Linked DNA regions of Homo sapiens. The gene in region 1 interacts genetically with each later gene. Each region holds a gene or a part of one and is shown in the gene's direction. Other genes may lie near its edges.

Region 1 (3,500 bases):
AATAACTTTATATTTTGGATAAGTAAACTTGATTTTACTTATAAGAAGAAACATTCCAACTTCTGGAAAACCCAGTGTAAAAAATTCTTTCCACTTGTTCATTTGTTCCGGATCAGCTTGTAGAACCCAGCAAATTAGGCTAATGTAAGGTATTCTATGTTTAGATTTTTGGTTTGGAGAATTTCAATTTTCTGGTAAGAAAAAAATGAAGGCATATTTTATTGTAAGGGAATAATGTAATAAAAATAGGAATAGCTCTTTTATCATGGTTTAACACTTTTATTGAATTTAAGTGTCCTTTAACAAAATATTAAGCTGTTTATAATATAAAGTGCCTATAAATTTAGACACACAAATTACCTTATTTCTTTAACCGGGAGTAAAAGTTGAGTATATATCCGTGATACAGAGAACGCAACACATGGCACATTAGATGAATTTACCTTTGAAGTACTTGTTAGTTTTCAGGCATTAAGAAGTCAAGGCATTGAGAATATTAATATTAAAAATTTTCTTAAGAAAATTGCAACCAGGGGGCACTGCAATTAATTAGTGTCACAGTATCTTATAGAGTAGTAGACCAGCCCCTTAAACTTATGCCTCAAGACTGGTAGGATAATTCTCTCTCTCTCTCTCTCTCTCTCTCACACACACACACACACACACACACACACACACACACACACACACATATATATATTTAAAATTTATATATTTATTTATATATATAATTTAATTATAATATATATAATATACATATTATATATATAATATAATTTAAAATATATATATATTTAAAACACACACATAAATATATATATATATATTTAAAATTATAATTCTTCTCTGGTACCTAATAGATACTTTGAGTAATATAGAAAATGAGTAAGATGAGAATTTCAGATATCAAGCTTAAAACCAAGTAGGAAAGTTATATCACTTGTATTTTATGTTTGCAGTGTATTTGCAGAAATAATACAGTGTATACAAATCTCATCACTATGCTGTAAAATACTGCTTGTGTGTATTAGTTAGGGTCTCCAGCCATTGAAGCCTCCAGCATTTTCCCTACTTCCTTATTTTCCTTTTCCTTTAATTGTCCTTCCAAGAATTCATGGGGAGTAACATTTTTATTCTGCTTCCGTGCTGATGCTATGAGACCCAGTAGAATATAAGTGACCTCTGTCCAGCAAATTCCCTTTGCTTTGGCAGGCATCTTGGGCTTTCAACTGTTGTAAGTTACATCATAAAACTGAAAGATTATTTAATAGTGTGCTGCATTGCCAAAGATGATTTTGACAGTTTGAGGCATGTATCCCATGAAAGGGGAAATTTTTTAACTTAAGATTTAATTTTAGTCTCAGAGATTTTTTTTAATTTTTTATTTTATTATTACTATACTTTAAGTTTTAGGGAGATTTTGAGCAGGTTGAGAACTTTAAGCTGGCAGTTTTTAATAGTTGTAGGTCTTTGCTTGAATAGAAGGTAACCCTGGTTTAATGTTTTTTTGTATGTCTGCAGTCGTCATTAATTGCAGTGGTTATCAAAGTGTGGTCTGCAGACCTCAGGTCATTCCTAAGACCCTTTCACAGAGTTGCAAGGTGAAAACTATTTTCATAATAATACTGAGATGGCTATTCTCATGATTTATCTGCCCTTAAATAGGAACAGTAGCATACCCAGTGCCCTAGCATAGTAATTTATTCTCCTCCTTCTCTTCTTCTCTTCTTCCTTTTCTCTGTACTTCTACCTTCCTCCTTTCTCTTCTCCAACATGCCCATGCACTTGTTTCTTCATTTATACAATGAGGTTTCTAATACAGTGAGGTCATTGGATTGTTTTGAAGATTAAATGTGTTAACATCATAAGTAACGCATAAAGTCCTTAAAATGGCACTTGACACATAGTAAATGCTCAATAAATGCTACTAATGTTAACCATTATTGCTGATAATGTTGTTGTTTTGTTCCCACCGCTTTAGTTATTGGCTTTAACTGTTTATGGCAGTACTTCTTATAATTTCTCAATTCAATTAAGTATTTTATAAAATAATGAAATTTGAGGGCCTACAAAGAAGTTTGTTCTTTCTAGGAAAACTGGGTTGTTTGGTTGGGAAAAAAATGCTTTAAAAACTACTTATAAATTTAGGGTGAATGAAACAGTTGTAAAACAATTGCAAAAATTATAAAAGTCTAAATGGTTTCTATACTCAGATTACTTCCTAAGTAATCACAAGAACTCAGATAAGGCCCTGGGACCTCGTAAAATGGTTGATGAGTTCCTATAATGTAATATTTTTAGTTAAAGTAAAATATTTAAGATGTGTTTGAATTTTAAATGATTTTTTAAACAACTTTTTTGATTAATAGTTATCAACCACTATTCCCTATTACATTGGAAAAGTGGGCCACTACTCTAATTAACAGAAGGGAACAGAAAGGGCAAACAAGATTACATACGAGTATTGTCCATTGAATTATGTTTAAAAGACTTAGGTGTAAAAACCAGATACATGAGAAGTATAGCAATCATTAATACATTCTAATGGCAATATCATATTGAAAAGGTGGTAAGTACTGTATTTGCTTCATGGAAGGATTGATAAGACTCTTTCACATGAATGTTTATGGGACTGTTGCCTAAGGGATTTATAGTAGCTAAAGCTCAAGTTTGAAATAATCTCCGTCTGTCCCCTACCTCCCCCCACCCACTTTTCTACTTGTAGGGACCGCGTTGTAGCCGTTTTTGTGCAGGGTCCTGCATGGCAGTTCAAAGGTTGGCCATGGCTTTTGCCTGATGGATCACCAGTTGATATATTTGCTAAAAGTAAGATTCTCTTTGTATTTACTGTATCCAGTATAGAAATGTTCTCACTTTATTTAAGAGAAACAGTCATATAGTTCTGCGCATATGATGTGTATGTCAAAAGATTGCTGTTAAGTAACATATGTTAATGTTTAAGCATCTGTGACATATTTTTAAAAGCTTTGTATATTAATACTTTCTGTGTAGGTATATCTGAAAGTGAATATTGCCTATCCCACAACATTACTAATTATTTTTAGATCACTTAAAAATCATTGGCCAGACACAGTGGCTCACACCTGTAATCTCAGCACTTTGGGAAGCTGAGGCAGGTGGATCACCTTAGGTCGGGAGGTCGAGACCAGCCTAACCAACATGATGAAACCCTGTCTCTACTAAAAATACAAAATTAGCCGGGCATGGTGGTGCACACCTGTAATCCCAGCTACTCGGGAGACTGAGGCAGGAGAATCGCTTGAACCCGGGAGGCGGAGGTTGCAGTGAGCCGAGATCACTTCAGCCTGGGCAACAAGAGCGAAACTCCGTCTCAATAGGAAAAAAAAATTAATACTGTTGCATGTCCATAGATTTTGATTAAAATTGATGCCAGTTTTTTTTTTTTTTTTTAGACGGAGTCTGGCTCTGTCGCCCAGGCTGGATTGCAGTGGCGCGATCTCAGCTCACTGCAAGCTCCG
Region 2 (3,500 bases), on another chromosome or scaffold:
CCCTCATTAGGCATTTTAAAATATATTTTAGACAATTTGTGCTTATTTTGAGAAATTAGGTACATTGTAGCCTATTTTAACAGACCTTTCTGATGTAGTAAATTATAAGCTAATAGCTCAAAATACTGGAGCTCAAGAAAATCCAAGCAACATATACTGTTAAATTTCTTTGTTCTTTTCAAATTTATAAACGATGCTTTTTTTGGTATATGTCCATTTCAGATCATGGAAAATGCTGAGATTAACAATATCATCAAGATTGTGGGTCTTCAGTACAAGAAAAACTATGAAGATGAAGATTCATTGAAGACGCTTCGTTATGGGAAGATAATGATTATGACAGATCAGGTCAGATTTGTTATTAAATTTTTAGATTGTTCAACTAAATTAAGCATGTCTTAATTTAATTTCATTGTTTTTTGCCATGAAAATAAATTAGTTAAATAGGAGCTTTATTCATCATCTCTAATCAACATCTAATCAGATATGCTTATATCATATGTATGTTGCAAATACAGGTTAAGTGAGTCTGGATTTGAACAGACCTTTTTTGATTCCCATAGAAAATTTGACAAATTGCCAGTAGGTCAGTCATAATATTTTTTTATTTCTAAACAATTCTTTGTTTGTTTGAGATGGAGTTTCGCCCTTGTCGCCCAGGCTGGAGTGCAATGGTGCAATCTTGGCTCACTGCAACCTCCGCCTCATGGGTTCAAGCGATTCTCCTGCCTCAGCCTCCCGAGTAGCTGGGATTGCAGGCGGATGCCACCACACCCAACTAATTTTTGTATTTTTAGTGGAGACAGGGTTTCACCATGTTGGCCAGGCTGGTCTCGAACGCCTGACCTCAGGCGATCCGCCTGCCTCGGCCTCCCAAAGTTCTGGGATTACAGATGTTAGCTACCACGCCCAGCCTAACAGTTCTTTTGAACTTTGGCTTTCAAATCTTTCTAGGACCAAGATGGTTCCCACATCAAAGGCTTGCTGATTAATTTTATCCATCACAACTGGCCCTCTCTTCTGCGACATCGTTTTCTGGAGGAATTTATCACTCCCATTGTAAAGGTACGCTAATTTCTAAGTACCATCATGGATATTTTAAGACCCTACTCCTCAAACCTGGATATACATATAAGCCCCGTCACATGTAGTGGTATACAGGGGACCCCACAGTGTACAAAGCCACAGTCATTGTTTTTTATCACAGGTATCTAAAAACAAGCAAGAAATGGCATTTTACAGCCTTCCTGAATTTGAAGAGTGGAAGAGTTCTACTCCAAATCATAAAAAATGGAAAGTCAAATATTACAAAGGTTTGTAATGAAACCCATATAGAACTTCTCATTTTATTATACACCCTGTACAAGACTATATGAAGGAACTTGGTATTTTTGGTTTTATAGGTTTGGGCACCAGCACATCAAAGGAAGCTAAAGAATACTTTGCAGATATGAAAAGACATCGTATCCAGTTCAAATATTCTGGTCCTGAAGATGATGCTGCTATCAGCCTGGTAGGTTTGAGTTGTATTTTATATACATTCTAATTTTAGAAATCACTACTTTAGCCAGTTGAAACATTTACATTTTTGTATAAGACTCCGTATCAAAAAAAAAAGAATGTTTTATAGAATAGAATGTTTCCAGTAAGCATATCCCAGAGAAGGAATCAGATATTTTAGAAAATTTTGATTTTTGGCTGGGCTTGGTGGCTCATGCCTATAATTCTAGGACTTTGGGAGGCCAAGGCAGGTGGATCACCTGAGATCAAGAGTTGGAGACCAACCTGTCCAACATGGTGAAACCCCCTCTCTACTAAAAATACGAAAATTGGCCGAGCGTAGTGGCTCACGCCTGTAATCCCAGCACTTTGGGAGGCAGAGGCGAGCAGATCACAAGGTCAGGAGATCAAGACCATCCTGGCTAACAAGGTGAAACCCCATCTCTGCTAAAAATACAAAAAATTAGCCGGCCGTGGTGGCACGCAGCTATAGTCCCAGCTACTTGGGAAGCTGAGGCAGGAGAATCGCTTGAACCCGAGAGGCAGAGGTTGCAGTGAGCCGAGATCAGGCCACTGCTCTCCAGCCTGGGCAACAGAGTGAGACTCCATCTCAAAAAAAAAGGAAAAAGGCCAGGCGTGGTGGCTCACGCCTGTAATGCCAGTACTTTGGAAGGCTAAGTCGGGCAGATCACAACGTCATGAGATGGAGACCATCCTGGCTAACACGGTGAAACCCCGTCTCTACTAAAAATAAAAAAAAATAAAAAATAAAAAATTAGCCGGGCTTGGTGACACGCGCCTGTAATCCCAGCTACTCCGGAGGCTGAGGCAGGAGAATGGCGTGAACCCAGGAGGCGGAGCTTGCAGTGAGCTGAGATGGTGCCACTGCACTCCAGCCTGGGCGACAGAGCGAGACTCTGTCTCAAAAAAAAAAAAAAACAAAAAAGGTCGGGCGCAGTGGCTCACACCAGTAATCATAGCACTTTGGGAGGCCGAGGCGGGTGGATCACCTGAGCTCGGGAGTTCAAGACCAGCCTGACCAACATGGTGAAACCCCATCTCTACTAAAAATACAAAATATTAGCTGGGTGTGGTGGCACGTGCCTGTAATCCCAGCTACACGGGAGGCTGAGGCAGGAGAATCACTTGAACTTGGGAAGTGGAGGTTGTGGGAGCCGAAATCGTGCCATCACATTCCACAAGAGTGAAACTCCATTTCAAAAAAAAAAAAATACAAAAATTAGCTGGGCGTGGTGGCGGGCGCCTTTAATCCCAGGGGCTCAGGAGGCTGAGGCAGGAGAATCGCTTGAACCTAGGACGCAGAGGTTGCAGTGAGCCAAGATGACACCATTGCACTCCAGGCTGGGCAAGAGAACAGTAACTCCCGTCTCAAAAAAAAAAAAAAAGGAAAACAGTATTTTTGTTTTTCTGTTGTTCGTTCTTTGTAGAAGGATATTTTGGAACCTATTAGCCTATTAGTACCAGTGACATCTTTTCATCCTTTAATTTATAGGCCTTTAGCAAAAAACAGATAGATGATCGAAAGGAATGGTTAACTAATTTCATGGAGGATAGAAGACAACGAAAGTTACTTGGGCTTCCTGAGGTAAAAGTTTTAAATATATGCCACAAAATGGATTGTTAGACTGACCTTTTGGTATTGATACTATAGCAAATTAAACTTACTGAATAGTTATTTTAGTAAAAAATTTGATATGATAGAGTTGTGCAGCAGTTAAATTTGCTTTATCTTTAAAACATATAAAATATTTCTGTATTATTCAATATTTTTTAAAGACTTAAGAATTACAGAAATAATTCTTAGTTCTGAAAGGTTTCTGTTTGATTTTTGTGTTGAGCATTGTTTAGACCGGTAGACTCATGTAATACTATTTGGTCCTTCAGGATTACTTGTATGGACAAACTACCACATATCTGACATATAATGACTTCATCAACAAGGAACTTATCTTGTTCTCAAATTCTGATAACGAGAGATC
Region 3 (3,500 bases), on another chromosome or scaffold:
TATTTTCTTACAGAGCTGAAAAAGGAGAGAAGGAAGGATTTGATAATTTGTCATTTGCTTTTTATCTAAACATGCTTTTTGAAGAGAATCTGCCACCATAAAGTTCTGACATTGGTGTAATTATTCTTTGTGAATATTGTCTGGAAGATGTGGTGTTGGTAACTATGCTTGCTATCTCAAGTAATACATTGTTAACCAGTGATTGATTTATGTAACTATGAAAAAAACTTTAAAAAAAGTAGAAATCAATGTTTAATTATGCCCAGACATGTCATTATTGAACTTTGTATTAAGAGATTGTTTAAGCGTGATTTTAAGAGGGCCTAACCCATCTTACAGATTAACTGTACAAGTTCATATATTAAAATCAAACGTCTCTCATTTTGCCTGCCCTCATCCCCTAAGATATAAAAGATTCCCCCCCGTCCCCCCACTTTGGAGCTCATTCTTCGCAATATTTAAAATTGTAGCTCTTTGCATGTAATTTAGAACATTCTGACCCATACTCAACTGCTGGGAGACTCTGTTATTTATATTTAAAATGTTGACAGTGAGTTAGGAATTTGGAGCAGAAACCATATCTAAGTCTAAGTGAAAAGACTTCCTAAGTATTGGTAGAACTAACTGTAGTGGGGCTGAGTCATTATTACAGTACTGTACAGGCTGCGTAGCTATCTGTAGAATTGATAATGGTAATACCAGGTTAAAGTGTTAGCGATTCTTCTGCTGTTTCAGAGGTCTTGAAGTTTTTGCCTGTCTGCTATGGAGATAGGGAGTTCTCCCCCATTTGACCCCCTTAGCAAAGCACAATACTTGGCTCCATCAGTCTTTAGTCTAAGAAGTGATATATAGGATCATGGTTTGACATCATCTTGTGCTGATTCTGGTTGGCTTAATGGAATCAAATTGGATGAAGGTAATTAAATATGAATTGTTTCTGATGCTAATAGATAGTTGTACTTCTGTCTGTTGGGTATGGGTTGGGATGGGCGGTAGCATAGCTGATTGCGGTGGGGGAATTTCAGATAGCTGATGATGTGGCTATCTGAAAATTGCCACTACATTTTTAAAACTGAAAAGTGATGGTACCGCCAAATGAAATCTGCAGCATCCTCAGACTCAATCAGGAAATACTTAAGCATTATGCTCCAGGGTGGTTTTCTTCCCTTACATTGCAACTGGACTCCTTGAGGCACCTTTTTAGAATTAGTGAGCCGCTAGGATTTTTATACTATGCTTTGACATAAAAGAAAGTTGCTTGTCAATATGTGTTTTTTTAGTTTACCAGCATATCAGATCTCACAAACAAATTTTAGGCTCGGATTGGATGTTTCTAGTAAAAACAAGAAAATCCAGGCATCACTAAAAGAATCAGAAATACGTTGTGGCTTGAAAGGTGCAAACTAAATAATATAGCTAGCAGTAACGGTCACCAACTCCTGCTTTTCTTTGGTTCAGTAGATAGAGTAAAATGGAAAATAGGAAACCAAGGTCAGTCCCCAAATCTCATTTTAACCAATAGCAGCAAAAAAAAAAAAAAAAAAAAGGAATTGAGTCTGACTTTTTCCCCTTGCTGTCAGCATAAAGATGGGGAATTGAGAGAGTTGGAAAGACATTCATTAGTTTGTTCAGATTATTAAATAACATGTCTTAAAGTTTATATTCCAAAATTGGGCTGTGAGGTTTTTTTGTTTTGCTTGTTTTCAGTGCATGTGTGGGGTGGGGAGGTGCAAAAAAATGTTTGCCTTCTAATATACAGCTTTGTTGTATATTAATTATATAGTAACAGTTGTCCCTGCTGCTAATGGTATGGAAAATGATTCTGTTGTGCTTTCTGAATACATATCATTTTAGAAGTTTCAGATTATACTAAAACCATGTTATTTCATATTAGTTGGACATGAATGCATATTTATATGACACATCATTATCAACTTTTGCCTTTTGCCATCTTTTTAGTGCAAAGTAAAACTGATATTCTTCAAATCCAAAGTCGTTTCCTCAGAAGTGTGTTTTGTGAGGGATTGCATCTTTCCCATGTGAAACTGTGTCGAACTCCAGTAAACTGTGTTTGCTTGGGAAAATGAATTCAAATGTAATTAGTTTGAATGAAGCTGTGGAAATGTTTGAAATGAGTATTTTGACATTGGACCTGGAGGTTTAAAAAAAAAAACCCTATTGAAAGAATAGTAAAATATATTGGATGTGGAGGTGAGAGTCAGTTGAGTGAATTTTCTGTGTTGTATGGTTTAGATTATCTGACTATCCCTTAATTATTTTGAAACCATTAACTTTGGATAATAAGGGCATTTAGGCAAACAGTTGACACATGGATTTCTTAAGGTAAAAAGTTTAGAGACTTCCAAACTAGTCCTTAAGAGGCGAATGGGTATTGTGTTTAAAGGAAGCTTTCAGATTGTGTTTAAACTTCGAGTAGTAATATTTGGAACTGTCTTTTCTCCCTATTTCCATGCCTCATACATCTCAAGTTTGAGCAGCAGCTTTCCATCCCCATGGCTCCAGGCCAATAGCTGCAGTAGAAAATCTAAAATAGAGGCCAGGGTTGGAATAATTAGCATTTTGCCAACCCCCACCCTCCCTGCCACCTGCCTATCTAGATGTGGACAGTATGTGCTGTGTTGATAGCATAGGGCCTGGGAAGGGTGGAGAGGGATGTAAATGAGGGCAGGGTGGACAAAGTTTGATTGGGGGTTGCGGGGAAGCTTGTAGAGGAATGTCTGTTAGATATTGATGGTATTTTGGTGGCGTTATGAGAAATGGCTGATAGTTTGCTGAAATGATTTAATAGTAAATAGATATTGTTGAACATTTTCTGTGTGTATAGGAAAGATCCTAGATATTTTTCACACTGGGAGAGAAGTGATGTTACTGGTATCTCATGCATATCTCTGGAGTATATAGATCGTAATATCAACTTTGGCTATCTGTATCGAAGTTTGTATTAACTGTCTTTATGTGTGTCATTTATGTCTCTTAACGTTTAGTAAGAAAGAAATTCCAAGGAAGGTAGGCAACTTTTAATTTTAACTTCTTTCCTTTACTTTTTTTTTGGGCGGGGTGGGGGGCAGACAGGGTTTCTGTTTGTTGCCCGGGCTGGAGCGCAGTAGTGTGATTGCAGCTCACTGCAACCTCTGCCTCCTGGGCTCAAGCGATCCTCCTACCTCACCCTCCCAAGTAGCTGGAACTACAGGTGCATGTCACCACGCCGGGCTAATTTTTGCATTTTTTGTAGAGACGAGGTTTCTCGCCATGTTGCCCAGGCTGGTCTTGAACCCCTGGGCTCAAGCAGCCTGCCCACCTCAGCCTCTCAAAGTGCTGGGCATGAGCCACTGTGCCTGACCCTTAATTTCTTTTTGGTAGGTATTCATTTTTCATTTGTTGTCTTAAGCTTCTAGTTTCACTCACTTACCTGTCTGCTAAATTTTTCTGAAATGTGTAATAAATGTTTTAATTTACCATCTCCCTTCTACCCTTCCCAT
Region 4 (2,578 bases), on another chromosome or scaffold:
CTCCTGCAGCATGAAACCCCTCACCTCCCGCTCCTGCAGCAGAAACAAAATACTTGGTTCTGTTTATTGTCTCCCTTTCTCATTAGACCTGAGCTCTGGGATACTGTGGGCTTAAGTACTTCTGAAAATTTGTATGGCATCTGCTGGGTGAATTTTCCTAGGGTGCTGGGCTGGTTGTTAGGACAGTCTGGGTGACTGGCCTCATTCATGGCAGGGGCAGCAGGTGGAGAGTGGTCCGGGAAGGATTTGAGGAGCTGCACGGAGTCAGGCCCAGCCTCTGGCCTCCTGATTGCCACCTTTCTCAGGATCTTGGATACTAATTAAGAAACTCTTGACTGCTGGAGGCTGTGATTGACCCACTGAGAGCTTTTAGGCATGTGGATGTGAGTCAGCCAGGATTGATGGAGCATTGACTGCTAATTAGACTCCTCTGGGAAGGTAGAGGCGGGCAACACATAATGCCTTCGCTGTGGGAGCTTCATCAAGGGGATGATTCTTGGACGGACATTTTTCCTCCCTCTTTCCACAGGGGCATGCTAGCCCTGTCATTCTAGGAGTTTATTATCCTTCAGACACAGCTACTTATGTTTTTAATTCCCTCACAGGATGAAGACATGAAGAGAAAGTTTCAAGATCTTCTGTCTGAGGAAAATGAATCCACAGCTCTACCCCAGGTTCTAGCCCAGGTATTCGTATTCCTGATGATCACTAAATGTAGTCTGGGCTTAAGGAGCTGATAAGCAAAGATGATGAAATTCAAGATTTTCCTGAGTAGCAATTGCTTAACATTGTTTCAGTTATAATGTAGTAGAAACTCTGTTTTAACTTGATTCGCTCCAGCACCCTTAGATTTAAAAATGCAGGATATGTTTAATATCTAACACATAATAGACCGATAAGCACAGCTAGGGATTGTCATCCAAAAGGTCACCTGCAAGGCAATTTCGAAAGACTCTATTAGAGGCTCAAATATAAATTTGTTGAACAAATTAAAATTTGGGTCAGTAGTTGATTCCTTGATTACAATTTTATTCTTTAAAGTTCTTTGTGAGTATAAGTTAATTCCAGTCCTGCTTTTTTGTTGTTGTTGTTGTTGTTGAATGGTAGCTGTCCTTTTTCCCACTGTTTCCTCCCCCCAATTTTTTTTTTCTTGAGACAGAGTCTTGGTTTGTCACTCAGGCCGGAGTGCAGTGGTGCAATCTCAGCTCACTGCAACCTCTGCCTCCTGGGTTCAAGCAGTTCTCCTGCCTCAGTCTCCCGAGTATCTGGGATTACAGGTGTCCGCCACTGTGCCCAGCTAATTTTTGAATTTTTAGGTGAGATGGGGTTTTGCCATGTTGGTCAGGCTTGTCTCGAACTTTTGACCTGAAGCGACCTGCCCACCTCGGCTTTCCAAAGTGCTGGGATTACAGCTGTGAGTCACCGCACCCAGCCTTCCTCCCAATTTTATATATGGGAAAACAACTAAGGCACAAAGGTTGTCTTCCCGCAAAAGACCAAGACTTGGGGCTTCAACTGAGAGGTATTATAGTCCTTTTAAACTTGATATTTAGAAGAGGACGATCAAGAGGAAGTTGGTTATGCTACTTGCTTTCAGTATACATCGTTCAGAGGTCAGAAGCCATAAGGGAGAGAAATATCTATTAGATAAGCATGTCTGAGTTGGGGGCTGTGGTGAGGACTCAGTTGTCAATGATGACAACCAGTAATTTTTGGTTCTAGAATTTCACATCAAATGCCCCCACTTTACTGGAAGCATATTGAGGAACTTTGATAATCTTAAAGAAGCCAGTGATTTTCTTTTGAACATTTCTCCATTTTCCTTTATTTTCAGCCTTCTACTAGTCGAAAGCGGCCCCGTGAAGGGGAAGCCGAGGGTGCCGAGACCACAAAGCGCCCAGCTGTGTGTGCTGCTGTGTTGTGAACTCCGTGGTTTGAACACGAAAGAAATGTACCTTCTTTCACTCTGTCATCTTTCTTTTCTTTGAGTCTGTTTTTTTATAGTTTGTATTTTAATTATGGGAATAATTGCTTTTTCACAGTCACTGATGTACAATTAAAAACCTGATGGAACCTGGGCTTTGTGCTTCTGCTTGATAATCGGTTCTTTAGTTGAATGGCTTTATTATTTATTTATTTGAGATGGAGTCTCACTCTGTTGCCCAGCCTGAATGAAGTGCAGTGGTGCAGGCTTGGCTCACTGCAACCTCTGCTTCCCAGGTTCAAGCGATTCTTGTGCCTCAGCCTCCTGAGTAGCTGGGATTACAGGTATGCACCACCATGCCTGTTAATTTTTATATATTTTGTAGAGACAGGGTTTTGCCATGTTGGCCAGCCTGGTCTTGAACTTCTGACCTCAGGTGATCTGTCTGCCTCAGTCTCTTAAAGTGCTGGGATTACACGCATGAGCCACTGAGCCTAGCCTGAATGGCTTTTTTATATTTAAAGTTGTGTGCCTTTCATCTGGAGCTACACCTTGGCTATCACTAGGCAGGTTTCCCAGGATGTCACCCTGGTCTCAGCCTGTGAGAGCTGAATACAAATTCTAAGGGCCCCTTGGAAAGTTCCAGGGAAGGGA

What was found. A genetic interaction does not mean that the proteins touch.
Region 2: changes in CDC73 (region 1) and TOP2A are lethal when combined (synthetic lethality), as found in Homo sapiens cells (one large-scale study listed by BioGRID).
Region 3: changes in CDC73 (region 1) and TOP1 are lethal when combined (synthetic lethality), as found in Homo sapiens cells (one large-scale study listed by BioGRID).
Region 4: changes in CDC73 (region 1) and CHEK2 are lethal when combined (synthetic lethality), as found in Homo sapiens cells (one large-scale study listed by BioGRID).

Annotation. Positions count from the first base shown.
Region 1 is NC_000001.11:193,233,531-193,237,030, forward strand, and holds part of CDC73 (parafibromin), read left to right. Parts: intron 1-2,725; coding exon 2,726-2,826; intron 2,827-3,500.
Region 2 is NC_000017.11:40,404,397-40,407,896, reverse strand, and holds part of TOP2A (DNA topoisomerase 2-alpha), read left to right. Parts: intron 1-222; coding exon 223-348; intron 349-954; coding exon 955-1,065; intron 1,066-1,207; coding exon 1,208-1,313; intron 1,314-1,403; coding exon 1,404-1,513; intron 1,514-3,013; coding exon 3,014-3,106; intron 3,107-3,405; coding exon 3,406-3,500. UniProt on the Homo sapiens protein: Key decatenating enzyme that alters DNA topology by binding to two double-stranded DNA molecules, generating a double-stranded break in one of the strands, passing the intact strand through the broken strand, and religating the broken strand.
Region 3 is NC_000020.11:41,031,822-41,035,321, forward strand, and holds part of TOP1 (DNA topoisomerase 1), read left to right. Parts: intron 1-3,500. UniProt on the Homo sapiens protein: Releases the supercoiling and torsional tension of DNA introduced during the DNA replication and transcription by transiently cleaving and rejoining one strand of the DNA duplex.
Region 4 is NC_000022.11:28,687,243-28,689,820, reverse strand, and holds the end of CHEK2 (serine/threonine-protein kinase Chk2), read left to right. Parts: intron 1-605; coding exon 606-686; intron 687-1,834; coding exon 1,835-1,924; 3' UTR 1,925-2,078; downstream 2,079-2,578. UniProt on the Homo sapiens protein: Serine/threonine-protein kinase which is required for checkpoint-mediated cell cycle arrest, activation of DNA repair and apoptosis in response to the presence of DNA double-strand breaks.